Regions from separate parts of the Homo sapiens genome. Here region 2 is linked to region 1. Evidence: fine-mapped expression QTL. Tissue or cell type: whole blood. Region 1 holds a variant in brackets; the other region holds the start of a gene. All regions are shown on one strand. Distances are from middle to middle.

Region 1 (2,689 bases):
ACTTTACTTAAAAAAAAGAAATATAATTAGTGGTAGAAAATAAATCAACATGTTAGTCTTAATATTAAAATATTAAAATTGATTGTCATTTCTAACCTGTAAAATCAAAGCAAAAGGAGTTCTATCTGGAGGCTAAGATTATGACACAATCCCAAATTATATATTTCAATTATCAAAGCTCTCAGATTTACTATGGAAAAGCCATCATTTTTAGTTTAGGATACTGTTGGCACAGTCATAATTTATTATTTATAATTCCCTCTTAAAATCTAGTTTTCAGAATCTTTCATCATTTTAGACTTCCGTTAAATTTACTGTGAATTTACTGTTTATTTCCCAGATCATTCTGAGAGCTTGAGCTCTTATTTTGATCTATGGAGCAACTGATTTCACTAATCAAATTTATTCTTTGATGTATCTGAAAATAGTGTGCCCAAAATCATCTTACAAAAATTCAATCCTGAAATGGTTTTTAAAGTCTTAATATCTCTTCAGGTACGTTAGTGAAAACTGAGGCAAATGGGCTGCCAGCTATTTTTTTGATGAGAAATCCTTAGTGTGTGAGTACTGGGAACTGAGGGTTGAGCATCTGGAGGTCGGCCTCCTCTTCAGTCTGCCTGCCTTCAACACTAGGTCCTGTGGTAGACACCTCAGTCCTTACATTCCCTATTTCACATGGAGGGGCCAAGGGTTCCCCATGATACAGCTGTCATAGAACTTGTTGTTTAGATGAGGCATCTTGAAAGACTTTCATGTTGTGGCATGCTAATATTATATAATATTTTGCTGAGAAAGAAAGTTTTATCAAATTATAAGAAATAGGAGGTTTCCTTTATTCCTAGGGCATCATTCTTTGTACTCTCTGTTGTATAAAATAATAATATTACTATTATTAATAATAATAAGATGGTTTTTATAACTGAAGGCATAAGAAAAATACCCATGTAAACTACATTTTAAGGCTTTTTATACTCTTTAGAGCAAACAGTTTTTCTAATCATTTATAAACATTTACTGCTTTGTTTCTGAAATCTTAGAAATAATAAACAAGTGAAATTTTGGATTAATTAATAGTATTAATGAAAATACAACATATTCTCTGTAAGATTACAGATGAATATTAAAACTTAAATTATAAGTGCTATAATTTTTCTTTTTGGCATGTTGGAGCATTTAACACATGAGCATTTAAACACATTTCTGACTTTTCTAAATTTTTGGTGAAAATATTTTCTAGTAAGATTAGACAAA[G/A]GAAAATGAGCTACAAGTTATCAACAGGTTCTCGAGAAAAAATTTTTTTCTTTAAAAAATCTAGTGAATACTAGATAATCCCTACCTGCTAGGAATTTATTACAGTCTAGATGTAGTGGGGGATAAAGAAAAGCCTCAAAAATTATAACCCAAAGCAGAGCAAGCAAAATGCAATTAACAAATAAAAACAGAAGATAAAACCAGTTGTATAGTCAAGATGGATTCTAATTAGAATCTAATCTAATTAGAATTATATATATGATATATATTTATATATAAACAGCAAATAGTTTATATATACCTATTATATATATTTGAAAACTCCACAATTATAATTCCACATCAAATAATTTTGGTGGTTTAAAAAAATTTGCTAGAATTAGGACATGATAGGCATAAAATAAAATTAGCCATTTTTTCCTGAGTACCCACTATTTTCAGGCAGTCTTTGAAACCCCAAAATATTTAATACATAGTTATCAACAAGTTTGTAATCTACTCAAAAGGGCAACAATCCACATATACAACGTAAAATAATGAAATATTTAAACATCAATTCAAGGAAGTAACAGAAGAGATTACACAAAAGTGTTGCCTAATTAATTTCTAAATGAATTGTCTGGACATTAATTGCTGTTTGAGTTATTAAGGAAGAATACTTCAGACCAAGAGGTAAGGTGAGGTTTTATAGAAGAGAGAGTTGAGTTAATCTTGAAGGATTTGTAGAGGTAGAGAAAGTAGGAACATTTACATTTGTTCTGGGACAGTGATTCAATTATTTTCTTTAGCAACTTTTGAGCTATATGTGGGGAAATAATAGAGAATAAATCTAAGTCCCGTTTGGTTGTTCTTTTTGTTGTTTTTTTTTTTTTGTTGTTGTTGTTTTTTGAGATAGAGTCTCTCTCTGTCCCCCAGGCTGGAATGCAGTGGCGCTATCTTGGCTCACTGCAACCTCCGCCTCCCAGGTTCAAGCAATTCTCCTGCCTCAGCCTCCTGAGTAGCTGGGATTACAGCTGCCACCATGCCTGGCTAATTTTTGTATTTTTAGTAGAGACAGGGTTTCACCATGTTGGCTAGGCTGGTCTCAAACTCCTGACCATGAGTAATCCCCTTCCCTCAGCCTCCCAAAGTGCTGGGATTATAGGCATGAGCCACCACGCCCAGCAGAGTCCTGTTCAGTTCTGGAGAATGTAGTATATTAGACTAGCACTTAGCTATGAATGTCCAACAAATATTTATTGCTGTTTCTCAACTTTAAAATTTTAAATAAATCTGTGTCCCATCAAACAAAAATATTTTATTGAATTTTGTTTTCTAATTTTGTACTAAGACTTCATGAAAACAAGTTGGGTTTTTTGTTTGTTTTATTTTGTTTTCCTACAAGTATTATCTTGGTGACAGGCAGTATACTCTTAGAAGGACTGAAGGTAAGAGCAGA
Region 2 (2,689 bases), 120 kb before region 1:
AGCATCACATAATCTGGCCCTTGCCTATTTGTCTTACATCATCTTACCTGCAAAGCTCCAGCTACACAGTTTTTTTTTTTTCTTTTTTGAATATGCTAAGCTAATGTCTATGGACCTTTGCAGTAACTCCAAATGTTTCCCCTTAGAGCTCTTGGAATGACTGGGTCTTTTTTGTTAGTCACTGAGTCTGTCATTCTTTATCATCACAATATTTTAAATTTCTACAGGCCACCTTTCCAATATGGACATTTTTTTTCCTTGCTTATGTATTTATTTCTTATTGTCTGTTTTCACTCTTCAGCCAGACTGTCAGCTTCATGAAAGCAAGGGCTTGTTATCTTGTTCTGTGCACTAACCTCCACTTCTGGAACAGTGCCTAGCAAATAATAGGCACTCAATGAATCTTTGTTAAAGTAACTAATTTTTATCTTCAAAGAGCTGACATATCTGGTTGTATATCAAATATAATAAATGAAAAGTTAAATACATATGGCAACAAACAGAAGAGATGTATATGTAAGTACTACATAAAGCATTGATTTTGTTAAAAATGAAAAGGTATTTAGGTTCTAAAAGCCAGTTTTGACTAAGGGAGGGCGGAAGTCACGGAGGTGGGGGGAAGAGAGAGGAGGGAGAGCAGAACTAGTAGACAGAGGATTTGTGCACAAACTTGAGTGCTTGCACAAGTTTTGCAAAGGAGACCTAGCTTGCCCAAAGCTGAAATTCTCCAAAACTGGAGCTTGCAGGGAAATGACAGTGGGCTGAAATATTTTGAGGTACAACTTTCCACTCCCAAAGAGGCCTGCTATCCCCTCCCACTCCCCACTCCGGCCTTTCCTTGGCTTGGCTTTTTTTAAAGAAAAAAAAAAAAAAAACTAAGCAGGTTTCTTTAGAAGAAAAAGAGGAAGTTCATAAAGAGTGTTTGTGGTAGTAGGGGTGGGGTGGAGTGAGGAGTGAGGAGGCCGTCACCTCCCATGGAATCCTTAGTCTTGGGTTTGTGAACCACGCATGGGGGCTGTTTTAGCACAGCTGCTAAAATAGGCCAGGCCTGCAGGACATACGGGTATGTTTAGTTTCTAGATAACTTTTGTTTTTCTAAACTCCTTCTTCCCTTTCCCAAATCTGGCAAGCGTTAGTCATCTTCAACTCGGCAGGAACCCACAAGTGTGCATGTGTGGCTCGGAGGCTTCAGCTGGGGCCCCGCCCTCGTCCCCAGGCGCACACTGACACACGCAGCCCAGACCCGGCCCGAGCGGGCTCCTGCCCTCGGCGTGGCTTCTCTCCAGCCGGGAGTCCCAGGGCCAGCTAGCCTCCTCCCCTAAAGGGGACGGCCTGTCAGCGCAGTGCCAGAGTCCAGCACCGGGAGGAAAGTTTCGGAGTGCGGAGGGAGTTGGGGCCGCCGGAGGAGAAGAGTCTCCACTCCTAGTTTGTTCTGCCGTCGCCGCGTCCCAGGGACCCCTTGTCCCGAAGCGCACGGCAGCGGGGGGGACTTCAGCCCTCCAGGCGGGGTGGGTTCCAGGTCCGGGTCCGAGGCGGGCGCTGGAGGCTCGGCCCCAGGCCGGAGAGGAACTCCTTTCGCGAGCTGTCGCCGTGGGCCCGCATTGTCTGCAGGAACTCTCCGGAATCGGGAGGGGGAGGACTGGATCGCGCTTCCACTGGGATTCGTCAAGAGTTCCGGCGGCAGCTGCGGCGGTGGCGGAGACTCCCTTTGTCCTCTCAGGACCTCCCTCTCTCCCTCCCTGTCAGCTGGTGGGTCCCGCTGCCGCAGGCGCCGGCGTCTCAGCTGCTCGCCGCCCCCCACCCCAGAGTGCGTGCCGGGTGACTCCCGCCACCTTTGCGACCCTCCTGAGCTTAGGGGACTGCGAGCGGGAGGGAGTCTCAGGCCCCCGGCCGCAGGATGGTGGCGGAGCGGTCCCCGGCCCGCAGCCCCGGGAGCTGGCTGTTCCCCGGGCTGTGGCTGTTGGTGCTCAGCGGTCCCGGGGGGCTGCTGCGCGCCCAGGAGCAGCCCTCCTGCAGAAGAGCCTTTGATCTCTACTTCGTCCTGGACAAGTGAGTGTGCGAGGGAGGTCCAGGGTCTCCTGGTGAGGGCGGCACTGGATCAGCTGGGGCTGAGGCTGAGATGCGTGTGCGCACCCCGGGGAGTGGTGTTGGAAACCCGCGGAGGGGTGCCCTGTTGCTGTCTTCTTTCAAAGGGCAAGCGCGTTCGGATCTGTGTGGGCGGAGATCAGCCGGGTCGGGGGTAGTGATTGGAGCCCCGGGCTACTTGGCTCTTTGGGGAGTTGGGGTATTCACTGTTTGCCAGTCTTTTGGCCTCTTGGGAAATGGGAGTGTGGCCTCTTGCGGGCCACGCTCCATCGGCCACAGAGTCCTTACCCACCTCCTCGACCCTGCTCGTACGCAGGCTAAAGTTTGCCTGGTTTTATCCTAATCATAGCGCTTTCATTGGAGCCAGGAAAAGCCTAGGGTTAACATGCCCAATGTGGTTTGCATTTCCTGCGAAGAAAGGCTTTTGTGTTTACTCTGAAGAGCTGGGTTCCACTCTAAACAATTAGGCAGGTATTTACCCACCCCAGAAAACGGGCTGACTTCTTCTTCTTCTTTTTTTTTTTGACGGAGTCTTGCTCTGGGACTGACTTCTTTAACTCTGGGTACCACCAAAGTTTCAGCTACAGATACCCTTACTTAGCTT

Evidence for each region. PIP is the estimated chance that this variant, and not a neighbour inherited with it, causes the effect.
Region 2: ANTXR2 starts here. The variant in region 1 is fine-mapped to the expression of ANTXR2 in whole blood (INTERVAL, PIP 0.95).

Annotation. Positions count from the first base shown.
Region 1 is chr4:79,951,026-79,953,714 of GRCh38, reverse strand. The region is part of intron 16 of ANTXR2 (ANTXR cell adhesion molecule 2); the gene reads left to right. Among named protein-coding and RNA genes, the nearest start is that of ANTXR2, 120 kb to the left of the region's middle. The variant G/A (reference allele first, on the strand shown) is at 1,252.
Region 2 is chr4:80,071,769-80,074,457 of GRCh38, reverse strand. It overlaps ANTXR2 (ANTXR cell adhesion molecule 2), which reads left to right and starts at 1,229. Exons shown (of 17, transcript NM_058172.6): 1 at 1,229-2,049. The coding sequence starts at 1,898. RefSeq lists enhancers at 880-1,159, 1,490-1,599 and a silencer at 1,780-1,939.